2 linked regions of the Homo sapiens genome follow. The protein of the gene in region 1 purifies or fractionates together with the protein of each later gene. This does not show direct contact. Each region holds a gene or a part of one and is shown in the gene's direction. Other genes may lie near its edges. The genes, in order: PRKD1 and TJP2.

Region 1 (8,173 bases):
TTCTGGTTACCACTTTTCTTTATGACAAATTCTCATTTTGTTTTGTTTGAAAATCACTGGGATTAGATTGCAGATTCAACTGCCATAAACGTTGTGCACCGAAAGTACCAAACAACTGCCTTGGCGAAGTGACCATTAATGGAGGTAGGTAAAAGATCAGCTGTCATGTCTGTGCTTCTTCCATATTAGAGAGTGTGGTGATGTAATTTTAGTCAGGGTTTTTGGTTTTGGTTTTGGTTCAGATATTTCAGACACAGTCTAAAGTAAATTATGGCCAGTGTTTGTTCTACTTTACAATAGAAAAGCATCCATGGAGTTTTGATAACAGTCAAAGACCCTTTCATGATCTTTACATGGTGAGCAGCTAGTATTGAAAACTTGGGTAGCCATAATTTATTTCCCAGTTTTATTATCTTATATTCTTATCCTAGTTTGCCCAGAAATGTGGATGTTGTTGGGCTGCCTACAAGTTATAGCTCTCAGTCTCTTTTCCTCTGTCCTTCTCATTTCAATCATCTTTAATAATAAAAGGAACTTTGTCAGCCAAAAAAAAATAGATGTATTTTCTGTATTTGGCAATATTCCTTCAAGAAAACTCTAACTGTATAAATTAACTTCGAAGGACTGCTAAGAAAAATGCCATATCTTAAGCAAAGAGCTTACATTTTCTTCTTGGGTAGCATTCTAATGGATCACTACCAAAATATTTGACTTAGAATCCCAGGTTAGCTTTTTCTGCAGATAGTGGTCTTTATACCTTTAGCCTGATACCAGTTTTCCAATTCCTCTGGAAAGGAAAATGGCTGTAAAAGATCACAGATACTTTCAGTTGAATATTTTTGTTGCTAAGAAGCTGAAGAATGACTATCTTTGCTCTAGAACTTTCTTCTCTAGAAGAAATATATACTGTACCTAAAAGAAGAAGAAGGAAGAGCTCTCCAGGAAAACATTGTCACACTTGTTTCTGGCTTGGAGATTCATGAATTAGCTGCCAAAATTGAAAGCTTGGCGATCGTCCCACTTTCTGTGGCATGTGGTGTTGACTTTGTTCAGGCTCAGGGAATGTCAGTGTGTACTGGATAACTATAACTAAGGGGATACAGAACAGTTTTTGATGTTGTTGATTACTTTGAAATTCTATTTTCTTATACATTCAGAAAAATCTGGTAAAATGTGAATTTTCCAAGCTTGGCAGGCTAGAGTCTCTCATTAATCTGTATTTTCATTTTAAAATGAGTACTTTGCATTAGTAAGTAATTTTAATTTTTGCCATTACCATCAACTGTATAATGACAGGTTCAATATTACTTCAAATATCAAATGTCTTATTTAAAAGCTGCAGCTATGTGACCAATTTAATATATTGGAATTCGTGATTTTCAAAGTTACTCCAATAGTAAGAATCAGTGGCTTGAATCTTTTTTCATGTGAAAATTTCTGTCATCCTCTTACATACTTTTTTTTCCCACCAGGGCTGTGCTTCTAAAATATGAGCAGCTTCCCAGTCACTTGGGCCTGGTATCACTTTGCCTTCTAGCATTTTACTTCTATCCCAGCTTTGGCTTCCTTCCAAGGTTTTTCATGACTTTTCATGTTTTCAGGCTTGGGAAAACGGAAAACGAGCATCTACCTATAAAATTACATGTTCAACCTCTCATAAACTCAGATGCATATAAACTGAAATAAAAAAGGAAATTGAAAATCATGGAAGGATCTGGAGGCCATTATCTTTAGCAAACTAACACAGGAACAGAAAAGCAAATACCACATGTTCTCACTTATAAGTGGGAGGTAAATGATGAGAACACATGGTCACATAGTGGGGAATAACACATACGGGGTCCCTTCAAGGTTGGAGGGTGGGAGGATCAGGAAAAATAACTAATGGGTACCAGGCTTAATACCTGGGTGATGAAATAATCTGTACAACAAACCCCCATGACACAAGTTTACCTATGTAATAAACCTGCACATATACTCCTAAACTTAAAATAAAAGTTAAAAAATAAAAAATAAACTCATCACAGAACTACCTCTTTGGGGCTTCCAATTGATTTGTTTTAGGATCACCTGACTGTCTCTTAAGCCCTGGCTCCAAGATTCCAGGCTTATCTTCATGGGTGAAAATAATTTTCTAGATTTGCTTAGCCCTGGGGCAGAGTCTGATGTGGTCATGGAAGAAGGGAGTGATGACAATGATAGTGAAAGGAACAGTGGGCTCATGGATGATATGGAAGAAGCAATGGTCCAAGATGCAGAGATGGCAATGGCAGAGTGCCAGAACGACAGTGGCGAGATGCAAGATCCAGACCCAGACCACGAGGACGCCAACAGAACCATCAGGTGAGAGCAGCACTCCCAGCCTCAGCCAACAGGGGAACCCCAGGCAGTATTTTCTCTTTAAACCTCTTTGATATTTTAATAGATTATAGTAGAAATGTGAAGTGCACGTTTACTTTTATATGAATGAACTGCGTGCTGTAAATGAGAGCCTTTGAAGTTAGGAGGTCTGGGTTCCCTGGGAGAAGTGTGGTTGCCATTCTTTCCCAGCATCACCTCATTCATTGAACTATTTTTTTTTTTTTTTTGCATGTGAGAGATGCTCATGTTTGCCATCCACAAGTTTATTACTAAGTTAATATTAATTTGAAGCTCATTGTGTAGAAACAACAAAAATCAAGATCAAACTCAGCAGAAATCATCTATTTTATTAGCTGGCCCCTGTTACAAATATCATAGTCTGTGTACACTTCACTGTTCTTGATATTATTTCAGAAGTATGTGCAATTTTATATCTGTTATTTAATTATGCTTTTGGTTACTGGATGATCCCCACTTTTTATATCAGGAGTCAGCACAATGTGGCCACCAGAGCAAATTGGACTGCTGCCCAATTTGTAGTAAAGTTTTATTGGAACATAGCCTGTCCATTCATATTGTCTGTGGCTGCTTTTGCACTATATTGGTAAAGTTAGGTCTTTTGCAAAAACTAAAATATTTATTACCTGGCCCTTTACAGAAAATGTTTCCTAGTCTCTGATTTATATTATAAAGCCTATTGAAACTTTTGTGTCCATTTTACGAATGCCATGTTTATTGACAAACAAATTGTTCATGAGAGTAGAGCAATAAAATGATTGTTTTTTTCCATTTAATGGCATAATGAACATTTTTTAAATAGTGGGAAATAATTGTCTTGTGACCTGTCTTTTGAAGACATACACTTCTTTAGTACCAAAGAGTTTGCATGGTGCCGGGGGGCAGTGGTGGGAATTACATATATATTCATGTTGTGGGAAGGGGGACAAGGAGGGAGGGATGAAGAGAGGAAGAAACAGAGACTAGCAGATTCCAATTTTTATGACATTATGCAGAGAAACTAAAAATTCATGTTGAATAATGTAATCTCTAAATGATTGATAATGTACCTATAATAGGAAATAAATAAGCAAATAAGCTTTCATGTGTGAGTCTGAATAGTGTGGCCTCAGTAGACTAAGAAGTACTCTACCTCAGGTTTACCTGAAAACTGAACACCATACAGTTCAACCCAAAATATGAGGTGCTTATTACCCAGCCTTGGGAATTTTTTTTTTTTTCAGATGGAGTCTTGCTCTGTCACCCAGGCTGGAGTGCAGTGGTACAATCTTGGCTCATTGCAACCTCTGCCTCCCGAGTTCAAGCAATTCTCTGCCTCAGCTTCCCAAGTAGCTGGGATTACAGGTGCCCGCCAACATGCCCAGCTGATTTTTTTTGTACTTTTAGTAGAGACGGGGTTTCACCATCTTGGCCAGGCTGGTCTTGAACTCCTGACCTCGTGATCCACCCGCCTCGGCCTCCCAAAGTGCTGGGATTACAGATGTGAGTCACTGCACCCGGCCAGGATTTTTTAAGGTGTACAAACAACGTGCCTATCACTCTTCAGAGTAACCCACTTTCAGAACCATGGTGCCTGACAATACGTTTTACTAAACATGAGATGTGAATTTTGTAAAGTTTCACTTGGATTAGCTGACATAAGGTTTTATGCATGAAAATACATAAAATGTACCTGAAAACATTTTTTCCCTACAATATTTTGACTTCTCAAGTCCATCAACAAGCAACAATATCCCACTCATGAGGGTAGTGCAGTCTGTCAAACACACGAAGAGGAAAAGCAGCACAGTCATGAAAGAAGGATGGATGGTCCACTACACCAGCAAGGACACGCTGGTAAGATCCACAGGGAACAATGTTCTCTTGCCTTGCTAGCTTTAATTAGAGGAGTTGCTAATGTCCCGTGAGGACTGTGAGATTTCTGCATTACTCAGAGTAAACCTCAGCACAGGCATGACACGGGATTAGGTAAGGTGCATTACAGTCTCTGGGTGTCAGATATAGTTGAGCAAGCAACGAAGTTAGGAAAAAGTGTGGAAAGCAATTTCAGGCAAACAAATTCATTGACCTTGATTACCTGAGATGTCTACCTGCCATTTTATAGCACTTGTGGAAGCCACAGTATGTGCTTTCAGAATGCTTCACTGCAATTTAGAATTTTATAGGAAACACTGCATTCTAGGCAGAGAATAAAACAGTGATAACTATCTTATACTTCGTAAGTCCTTAACTAAGTTTTCCCTGAAGAACTGACCCATTCAGGAACATTGGAATCCTGTACCCTGAGATTTTCTTAATAGTTGAGGAATGAGGTTGTGTACGTACGTAAGAGAGAACAACTTGATTCACGTTTCAAAGTTAAGTTGACAATTGACTGATTTCTGTTACTGTATTGCTTTTCTCATCTCTTACCTATAGGATCACTACAGATAAGCAGACACCTATAACCTAATTGATCTATCTATAATTTCGACCATCTGTGTTAGAGAGAGAAGACCTACCTGATATTATAGGACTCAATTGAATACCGCCTAGTTCTTTTTAGACATGGTGTAATATATTTAATATATTTGACTGGCCTAAAATTGGTTGTGGAGGAGAAGAGCGGAATCATAGAGCTTTGGGGTCTTTTATAAGATAAAAATACACACACACCCTAAAATCCTGAAAGATATACCTACAGTGTAGAAGGACCTGTTCATCAAATCATAGTGGTTAGATCTGTAGTGAGCTGGAGAGAAGGTAGAGTTGGTTGTTTGATGCATTCCCCTGACTTTAAGTTGATGTCATGGAGTCAAACTTATTGTCCAACAAAATATTCTTTACTTCTACTCTAACATTCAGAATTTTCCCATTGCCAATGGAAGCAAGAATACCTGGCTCCATCAGCATGGGATTTCTTACGTCCTAAAATAATGAGCATGCATAATAAACATTGCATCTCCTAGTAAACCTTATTTTATTATAGACTATACATCCACCTTTAGCCCTTCAAGCAGTGAAATAAGCTTAAAAATGATGTTTTCTGTTTACTATGCACTTTCTAAATGCCAGGCTCTTACTGGGCGCTAATACTTCATCTTCTTTATTACTCACGACCCTGTAACATAAATGCAGATACTTATCAGACATGTGCTAAATAGTCAACCTCTAGAGCCTGAAATTGAGCATGAGTCTGCCTTTCCCAAAGCCCATGCACTTTCCACCCTCAAATCGCATGTCCCTATTGGGGAAATCTATTTATGTTTTCAATTGGGGATATTTTTAAAGTTTTTTAAAAAGATCTTGGATCTAACTTCTGTTTCAGCGGAAACGGCACTATTGGAGATTGGATAGCAAATGTATTACCCTCTTTCAGAATGACACAGGAAGCAGGTACTACAAGGTAAGAGTGGGCTCTTTCTTTGTAGTTTCATACCTCTTATTGCTTTTTCATGGGAATGTAGAGTATAAGAAATAGGAAATACATCCAACAAACGTGGCTATTTTTGTGCTTCCTCCAGGAACTATTTTTTTTTTCTTCTCTATAGTCTACAAATTTCTTGGGATTCAGGTTGGGACCTCTTGATTCTTCTGTGAATTTTAAATTTCCCTGGGGAGTGTTTCTGGTACCATGGGATGATGGGAGAGGGAGGGAGGTGAAGATTAATTGAATATGTTAGCAGAGAAGTGTGATTTAACTAGAAAATTAATGGTCACAGCAGATCAGCTCAAAGTAAACTCCTGATATCCACTGCATCTAGCACACTGCTAGGAGTGAAGAAACATTGTATGATTTCTCCATGCTTGTCAATATTCACAAAGAGCACTTTCCTCTAGAGAAAAAAATGGCAGCAATTTTTATTCTGTCCCTCTACATTAAGTAATACAGATGTGGCATACTATATCACCCAGTAAAACACAACTCCAAAAAAAACTTCATAGAGAAAATAATAGATACTTGCTCCTTCAAAATGAATGCAGACTCTGGAATAGTTGATTTGATTCTCCACAGCCATTTTACATAGCTGTCACAGAAAATGGAAACCTCACTAATTTTAAAATTAAAACTTTGTTTTAAAAGTTATTATTTTTTAGCCCCTGCATACTTCCTGGAAGATGCAGTAGTGATTTCTTTTTTTTAGTATGAATTGCCTTAAAAATGATGACTATTGGCCAGGCGCAGTGGCTCATGCCTGTAATCCCAGCACTTTGGGAGGCCGAGGCAGGTGGATCATTTGAGGTCAGGAGTTCTAGACCAGCCTGGCCAACATGGTGAAACCTTGTCTTTACAAAAATACACAAATTAGCCAGTCGTGATGGGATGCACCTGTAATCTCAGCTACTCAGGATGCTGAGGCAGGAGAATCACCTTAATCTAGGAGGCGGAGTTTGCAGCGAGCCAGGATTGCACCAATGCACTCCAGCCTGAGCAACAGAATAAGTCTCTGTCTCAAAAATAAAAATAAATAAATAAAAGGCCAGGCGCAGTGGCTCACCCTTGTAATCCCAGGACTTTGGGACACCGAGGCAGGCAGCATGAGGTTAGGAGTTCAAGACCAGGCTGGCCAACATGTTGAAACCCTGTCTCTACTAAAAATACAAAAATTAGCCAGGTGTAGTGGCAGGTGCCTGTAATTCCAGCTACTTGGGAGGCTGAGGCAGGAGAATTGCTTGAAACTGGGAGATGGAGGTTGCAGTGAGCCGAGATCACGCCACTGCACTCCAGCGTAGGTGACGGAGCAAGATTCTTTCTTGGAAAAAAAAAAAAAAAGACCATTTTAAAACCAATCTCTAGTTGTCCTCACTTAAACTATTCACTTGGCTATGTTATTACATTAACATGTATTGAGTGCCTTAAAGAATAGGTTAAAATTTAAAAATAGCCATGTCTGCCTAAATGCATTTCAAAAGTGTTGTGATTCTACCTCACTGTTACAAAAATTATCGCTTATTTTCTAAGTCTTGGATTTTGGTGAAGATTCAAAATCATTTTTCCTAACCATACTGATTCTCGCCACATGAACATAGCATAAAAAGTCACATTTTCTAGAAAAAGGAAATAAGGTTTCCCATAGTAAAGGTATTTTTTTTAATTTTGCTTAGCAGTATTCTGTGTTTTATAGTTTAAAAGTATTTTATTTAAATGGTGGCTATTTGTGATGTCATTTTTCACATGTTCTTGGCATGAATTTTCTTTGAAAGTTTACATACTTTTGATAAACAACATTTAGTACTTTTTTTCTTTCACAGGAAATTCCTTTATCTGAAATTTTGTCTCTGGAACCAGTAAAAACTTCAGCTTTAATTCCTAATGGGGCCAATCCTCATTGTTTCGAAATCACTACGGCAAATGTAGTGTATTATGTGGGAGAAAATGTGGTCAATCCTTCCAGCCCATCACCAAATAACAGTGTTCTCACCAGTGGCGTTGGTGCAGATGTGGCCAGGATGTGGGAGATAGCCATCCAGCATGCCCTTATGCCCGTCATTCCCAAGGGCTCCTCCGTGGGTACAGGAACCAACTTGCACAGTGAGTCTGCCAGTTTTCTAACCAGCCCAAAGCTCATCATGTGCCTACCCCTTGCTTAGTAAACATGTGCCCTGCCCTTCCTAAGAACAGAATGAAGAAAGACTTCTTGGGGATGACTTAGTTTATTGTAGAATGTAGGGTGTCTAAATAAAAGCTGCTGCACATACTAAGATGTTTAGTTTGTTAAATTATCCTATTTTATTATAGCTATTTTATATTAAAATTTAACAAATTCAGGTAAACACTATGTATTAGGCAATTACAGACCTCTAGAGCTATTGG
Region 2 (8,173 bases), on another chromosome or scaffold:
AGGTGTCCAGGAAAAAACTGAAAGAGTTGTTGTTCACACTCTGTTAAAAGGCCTTGAAGGCCATAACGAAGCTTTGGGTGGGGGGAAGTCAGAAATCCCTCATGTATTAAATGACTTGACTTTCCCTACAAAAGAAGCGAACCAGTTTCCCAGTAAACATCCCACCCCATAACTATTTTTGAGGCATTCATAGGCTTAAGACCAATGAATTTTTACATCACCCCCGGGGGAATTGCATTTGCAATGACTTCTGCCTACATTTAACTTTTGATCTAGTTCTTTGTACACTGACAAAAGTTCACAGCCAACCATTTCTCTTCAGGACAAGTGTGAGAACTTTCTGCATACTGCTGAAGGCAAGGGAGATTTTGAGTTTAGCAAGGTTTTCTCTCCTTAAGAAGGTTATCTTTTTACGAGACACAAGTTATTGAAACTAGGCGGGGCCACTTTAGTCCTGTGTACAATAATATGTGTAGTAATATAAATAGTAATTTAAAAAGTCATGCAGACTTGGTTGGGGAGAGGCATGAAGTTTGGGTGTGGTGGGGGCGGGGTGAAGCGGTAGAAGGGTTCGCAATCACTGCTGAAACTTTCAACATATTCTACCAACAATATGAGCCACCAGGGAATTCCTTGCCTCATCTCTAGAACGAATCCCATTAAGCAGTTGTGGCTACAGATGAATTTATCTAGGTTGAGAGCTGATTCCCAATAACATGCCTCATTGATTTGACTCTAAGCAGTAATCAGGGGCCCAACAGTTGTTGGACCAACCAGCCTTGATTTTCCAGAGAAGGTGATTTGGTATATGGTAGTGTCTGAGGGTGAGATTGCCCCAGATGGGAGTGGAGGGAAGCAGAACAGTTTTCTCTGGTGTTTTACTGAGTTTTTGTCTTGATCCTAAATCCAAGGGTTAGGGTCAGAAACACAGACTCAGAGGTTAGATTTAACACCCATTTAGTGGGTTAAACACATCAATGGTTATGTGAACTTTGTTAAGGTTTAAAAAGCTATTTAGGGCCTGTTTCTCCCTCATAGGAATTTTTGCAATCAGCCTTTTTAGTAGATGCCCATATAGAAAGTGAATTTGGGAGGGTCTAAGGTGGTATTACTATTAAACTTTTTGAAAAGGCTGTGTGATAGCAATGGAAAAAAAAATTCAGGCATGGAAATCCAATATGCAGTATTGCAGTAGCTAGTTTTAATTTTATTTTTGTTTTTTTGGTTTTTTTTTTGGAGATGGAGTCTTGCTCTGTTGCCCAGGCTGAAGTGTGGTGGTGCGGTCTTGGCTCACTGCAACCTCTGCCTCCCGGGTTCAAGCGGTTCTCTTGCTTCAGCCTTCAAAGTAGCTGGGATTACAGAAGTGAGCCACCGTGCCCGGCCACTAGTTTTAATTTTGGATGGTACCTAGGAAAGCAGTTGAGCTAGTATGCTGCATACATTGTAGTGTGAGAGGCAGAGTTCCGAGTTGGAGAGTGTCTGCTTCCACTTTTTCCATTTGATTAGGAAAAGCACTTCTTAGAACTGGGTGACTGACAGCTAGAGCCCCAGAAGACCTGCACAAGCTGGGGCAATGGCTACCCATAACAGTGACGGCTCCATTCTGTTTTTTAAAGGGATTGGTGTCTCTATCATCCAGCTGGCCATTAAACAACCAAAGCTTCATCATCCTAGATAACCTGTGAGCTCTCAGAGGAGACAGAGTAAGGACTATCATACCCCCAAAATACCTAATCATTTAATAAAGCATTTTCTCTACCTTTTATGCTATCCCAAAACAGTGCTTTCCAAAGTCTGGTATACAGACAGACTTACAGGTGGTGCAGAGAGATACATATTCTATTTTTCAATTATGATGCATGAATATTATATGTTAGGAATAAAAACAGAAAACCAGCTACCACATCCATTTATTTCATGGCTAGATTGCTTAGAATGAGGCAAAAATAAATATTAAGTAAAGCAGTGAGTTTGCTTTAAGAAAAATTATCAACTCTGGGAATGAGTAATATGAGGCTAAGGCAAAAATGGTAAAGCTAGCCCTTGACATCTGAGGTGTGCATAATACTGCTTAAAATATGAGTGTGGTGCTTACTTATAGAGAGCCTGGTATACCTTGACCACGCCTTCAAGAAAGTCAAACACAGAATGGCCCAGAATAGCCAGGAAAGTTGAATTTGATGGACTTTCTGTCTTAAGCGTGTGCATCCTGCTCTTATCCACTCAGATCTCTTAGATGTGGTTGCAGACAGTGTATTTGTAGAGCTAGCTGTTTGTTTTAACGTCTGGCCCAATTCTCATTCCTTTCTCTGCTTCCACAAGCCATTCTGCAGTTTTTAAAGGTCTGTTGGTATGATATTTTTGATATGATAGAGTGATAGGGGAGGAAGTATTTTGACACTGATGAAGGACATCACTGTATTATCAAGTGACTCTTGCTCATGATTCATTGCCGAAGAATGTGGACAGCCAAACAGCCTCACCTGTAAATGCATTTAATTTCTCAAAGTCTTTCAGAAGAATGCCAACTGGATGAGTTTTTTTTTCTTATTTTTTTTTTAATATGAAGCTTGTATTGGTCTGTAAAATAGGCTTTAACAAGGATTTTCGTAGGAACAGGAAGCCTTGAGGTAGAAAACAAGTATCCCTGCTTTGACCTAGAGAGATGCATGCTCATGGCAGGCGAATGAATCAAGGAGAAGAGAAAATACTGTTTCAGTAGACTCTCTAGTGATGTGTGTGTTCACACCATTTATGAGAAATCCTAAGCTTTCAATTAGTAACTTGTACTTTAGTCATTTAAAATCAGCACAGATGTTTGTTTAGTGCCTCTGCCAGATGGTTAAAGTTAAATCAGGTTTTTTAACCTGAAAAACGTAATGTAGCTTTCCTTAACCATTTACACACCATTGTATATTGCAGACCATAGTCAGATACATTTTGTTATAATGAATGTTTATTTTACCTTTTAGCTCAATTAGAATATCAGTGGTTATGGTTTCTATTTTGTTTTCCTACAGTTACTGTATGGGGGTGCAGTAACAGCGGTGGTGGTGAAAGTAAGTTACTTTTTTCTTTTTCTTTCTTTTTTTTTTTTTTTGAGACGGAGTCTCCCTCTGTCGCCCAGGCTGGAATGCAGTGGTGCGATCTCGGCTCACTGCAAGCTCCACCTCCCGGGTTCACGCCATTCAGCCTCCCCAGTAGCTGGGACTACAGGCGCCCGCCACCACGCCCGGCTAATTTTTTGTATTTTTAGTAGAGACGGGGTTTCACCATGTTAGCCAGGATGGTCTTGATCTCCTGACCTCGTGATCCACCCGCCTCGGCCTCCCAAAGTGCTGGGATTAGAGGTGTGAGCCACCGCGCCCGGCTGAAAGTGAATCTCTTAATGGATCTTCCATGAATCAAATATTTGTGTTTTAGTAAGTTAGGCTGACCAAAAGATTTCGAATCATACCTTTAATCATGGCAAGGATCTTATGTCACATTCTTGAGTACACATGTTCACTAAATTTTACCTATATGTGTATGTGAACATGGACTTCAGAATTAATTAGTGTGGTAATTATTATTTCTATTGTAGACTTTAATCAGCCATATTAAATATATGCATTATGTTCACAGAGAAAACATGGTATCATCTTTGGAAACTTTACAGTATGCTCTATATTATAGATACCCTATATAACTATGGTACTAAACACACGAGTTAGTGACAAGTCAGGCATTTGGAGGGAATGTTTGTAACCCATTGTGGGAGAGAGTTATTAGAATAGTTATTCTTACTGGTAGGTAACAGTTATGGCTGTAATGAATAGAATGTGACTAAAATCCAGTTATGCCTTTGCCATCGTATTAAAAGCTTTGGTGGAGACGTGAGAACATTGCAGATACTTTGGATTTTGTCACTTGAGTTGAAGGTAAACAGAGAAAACAGTACTTTCTAGTCATCAGTAGGAATTAACTCTTCCAGGACATGTAGCTTCAAGGACCTTCTAGGTTCTTCTGAGGGGGAAATAATGTTCCACTTGGGGCCATTTTTTTCCATTTGTTGAGAGTCATTTGTTTTCAGAGTATTAAAGGAAGTGTTCCGAGTTCTAGGTTGTGTTTCTTTGATGCCTACTAAAGCTGAGCACACCTGAGACCCTGGGTGGAGCTCTACAATGGGAATAGGAGTAAGTAATGTAGGCTTCGAGAGACAATCATTCTGCTCTCAGTCCTTGGAAGACTGTTCCTAGGTATATATGGCAAAGCAGATGAAATTATTTGAGGGAATTAATTAGCAAAACTAAACATTTCTGTTTTTGAAAGGAATGAATCATTTGGAAGGAACTTCCTGGTGAGCTCAGTTTTAGCAGCCTGGTTTCTGCGTTACCCTTCTGCAGTCTGGCTGAATCAATTGTGTTCTTGCCTGTGATTGGTGAGGATGCACATGCTAGTATTTATTCTAGCCCTTATCACTTCCCATCAGCCCTGAGCCCCTCCCTGGTCTGAGTCATCTTGGTAACCCCAGAAGCTAACAGAGCACCAACACATCCACTAAACGTTGGACTGACTTGATTTGGGGCAGGCTTGTTGTATAAGCTAGTAGGAATAAGAGACTAATTGAGAAATTAGGACAGTGGATTCCTGACATTTATATAGTGAGTAGATGATCGTTTGTTAGAATTGCGAATTTCATCCAGAGAATTTTGTCCAAAAAAAATTATAGAATTTCATCTAGACCATTTTTGTAATGGCATGGAAGCAGCATTAGCTGCACCACTGATTAGCTGGGTGGCTTTTGCTGTCTTGTGACTCTAGTTTGCAATTTCTTTTTTTTTTTTTTTTTTTTTTTTTTGAGGTGGAGTCTAGCCCTATCGCTGAGGCTGGAGTGCAATGGCCCGATCTCAGCTCACTGCAACGTCTGCCTCCTAGGTTCAAGCGATTCTCCTGCCTCAGCCTCCCAAGTAGCTGGGATTACAGGCACACGCCACCACACCCTGCTAATTTTTTGTATCTTTGGTAGAGACGGGGCTTCACCATGTTGGCCAGGCTGGTCTCGAACTCCTGAGCTCGTGATCCGCCTGCCTTGGCCTCCCGAAGTGCTGGGATTATAGGCATGAGCCACCTCGCCTGGCCTAGTTCTCAGTTTCTTTATCAGAAAATGAGTAGTTACAGTTGATCATCTCAAAGTCTTTTGTGCTTAAGATTCTGAAGGTTTTGAAGTTTGAGTATAAAGCCTAGAGAACATTCTAAATTATTTCCATTGGTTCTTCTCATCTTAAAATGTTTTTGTGCTCCTTAAACTACGTTTGTGTTTGCTTGCTTGCTTTCTTTTTTTTTTAGAGATCCAGTGGATTATCTCTGAAAAGCATTTTTTAAAAAGACAGAGTCCAAGAGTGGCTGGTAGTTGTTTTGCTCATAAAGTGATGGAAAGATCTATTATTCAGTTGCAGCTTAAATTATGTACCAGCACCACGTGTGCTGGATTCTCTTCCTTACTTTGCAGCTTAAGCCAGCAACTGCAACCATCTTGCAGAGCTTCTTGAGAATCCTTCTTCCTCTTCCTCTTCCTCTCCACCCCCATGGACTTCTCCCCGGGCCTCATTGCCTGTGACATACGCTTGGAAGGAGGGGCAGGCCTGCAGCTGGGAGCCCTTTCTGATTTGTTCTTCACAAATGTGTTGAAGATGAGCCTACTGGTCACTGCTGCAAAAAACCACATTGTTCACTGGTGTAAAATCACTGCTGTCATCTGAGTTTCAGCATAACTTCAGGCATGTTGGAGTTTTTCAACGTCACCTCAGGCAGAGCACTTTGCCTTCCTTGGGCTGGTCTGTTTAGTGTCTGGGTGAGTTTTAAGAGAGGAGAGACATTGTGGCATCTTAGACACTCACTGAAATTTTCCAGAAATGGAGCTGGAAACATTTGTGCGTTTCCTTCTGGTGTTATTGTTAAAGCCTAAAAACAAGGGCAAGTGGCAACACATTGAAATGAAGAAGCCCCAAGTTTGCAACACATTGAAAGGAAGAGGCCCCAAGTTCGTTTTGAGCCTAAATTGAATTTTAATCAAAGGTCTGAGAGAAATATTTAGTCTACTTATACTATTTAAGTGCACAGTTTGGCAGATGACTTTGGGCAGTGAAGGATCTGGAAGAGGCAGGAAAGGTAGACTCAATCTGCCAGACTTAGAGCTAAAAAAATTTGCCTGGTATGTTTCCATGAAGAAAATTTTCCTGTAGAAGCAGTGGCACGACCTCTGTTACAAGTCTGCTTATTGATAATGAAGCTTTTTCTGTGTTATCAATTTCGTTGAATTTATATGTATGTATATACATATACACACACACAAATCTCAAGTAGAGAGCTTGATGAATTTCTTTTTTTTTTTTTTTTTGAGATGGAGTTTCACTCTTGTTGCCCAGGCTGAAGTGCAGTGGTGCCATCTCGGCTCACCACAACCTGTGCCCTCCAGGTTCAAGCAATTCTCCGGCCTCAGCCTCCCGAGTAGTTGGGACTACAGGTGCGCACCACCATGCCCGGCTAATTTTGTATTTTTTTTTTTTTTAGTAGAGACAAGGTTTCTTCATGTTGGTCAGGCTGATCTCGAACTCCTGATCTCGGGTGATCCACCTGCCTCAGCCTCCCAAAGTGCTGGAATTACAGGCGTGAGCCATTGTGCCTGGCCAGGGAATTTTATTTATTGTGGTAAAGTACACATAACATTAAGTGTACCATTTTAACCATTTTAAAGTATAAAATTCAATGGCATTTAATACACTCACAGTATTTTGTAAACACCATCACTCTCTAGTTCCAGAGGTAGGTGAATTTTTACATGAATGTATTCACCTGCATGATTACCACCTAGATTAAAAACTAGAATTTTCCATCACTCTGGAAGGTTCTCTCTTGCCACTTTTCCAATGATTACCACACCTACCTAAAAGAGAACTTCTCTTCTGACTTCTCTCACCGTGGAACACTTTTGCTTGAACTTGGGAGAGGACCCATATATAAATAAAATCAACATTTTATGTCTGTCATCTTTCACTCAACCTAACCTCTGTGAAATTCATCCGTATTTGTTGCGTGAGATTCAGTAGTTCTTTTTTGCCACTGAGTCGTATTCCATTTATATGCATCTGTCACATTTGGCTTATCTCTTCTGTTGATAGGTATTTGGGTTATTTTCAGTGTTTTTGCTATTATGAATAAAGCTGCCATGAAAAGCACCTACACATTGCCTTGTGGACATGTACACCCATTTCTCTTGTGTGAATTCCTAGGACCATAGGTTAGGGATTTTTTAAAAAACTTATTTTAGATTAAAAAAAATATTTTTTGAGACAGTCTCACTCTGTCACCCAGGCTGGAGTGCAGTGGCATGATCTCAGCTCATTGCGACCTGTGCCTCCCAGGTTCAAGTGATTCTCCTGCTTCAGCCTCCCAAGTAGCTGGGATTACAGGCATGCGCCACTACACCTAGCTAATTTTTGTATTTTTAGTAGAGACAGGTTTCTCTTCAACTCCTGAGTTCAAGCAGTCTGCCCACCTTGGCCTCCCAAAATGCTGGGATTATAAATGCGAGCCACCACGCCCAGCCAGGTTACAGATGTTTAACTTTGATTCTTTACCTCTGAAGTCAAATAAACCTGGGTGTGAATTCTTTTGTCCTGCCACTTGCTTGCTTGACTTTGAGCAATTTACCTTTTTCTCATGTTCAGTTTTCTCAGTTGTAAAATAGGCCTACCCTATCAGTCATGGTTCAGTCAAGAAGACATGTCATTCTAGCTATTTCAAGGAGAAGGGGATTCAATACAGAGTATTAGTTGCCTTCAGGACAAAGAAAAGGCGAGATGCGCAAAAAATGGAAGCCCACCGCTGGCTTTCTGATTTGCCGCAAAAAAAGTTAGAAAGCTGCTGCCACCCAGAGAAGACTCAGAAGGTCTTGCTTGACCTTCCACCTTCTCAGCATCTCCAGCCTTGAGGCTGGTGAAAGGGCAGGGAATCTGGACATGCTGTAAAGCTCATGTCTGAGGAATCCAACTTTTGCCTGCTACTGCTGCTGTCTGTAGGAAGAAGAAAAACAAATGGCTTCTGCTTTCCTTCATCCTTCCAAATCTCAAACACGTGTACCTCGCTGGTAGAACCCTGTTGGCAAGAGAGATGGGGGATCTCTGGTAGAAAC

What was found.
Region 2: the proteins of PRKD1 (region 1) and TJP2 purify together in Homo sapiens (affinity purification with mass spectrometry; 2 studies listed by BioGRID and IntAct, with this or other methods). This does not show direct contact.

Annotation. Positions count from the first base shown.
Region 1 is NC_000014.9:29,630,460-29,638,632, reverse strand, and holds part of PRKD1 (serine/threonine-protein kinase D1), read left to right. Parts: intron 1-66; coding exon 67-144; intron 145-2,138; coding exon 2,139-2,343; intron 2,344-4,091; coding exon 4,092-4,215; intron 4,216-5,686; coding exon 5,687-5,764; intron 5,765-7,611; coding exon 7,612-7,891; intron 7,892-8,173.
Region 2 is NC_000009.12:69,176,427-69,184,599, forward strand, and holds part of TJP2 (tight junction protein 2), read left to right. Parts: intron 1-1,616; exon of another isoform or gene 1,617-1,703; intron 1,704-8,173. UniProt on the Homo sapiens protein: Plays a role in tight junctions and adherens junctions. Acts as a positive regulator of RANKL-induced osteoclast differentiation, potentially via mediating downstream transcriptional activity.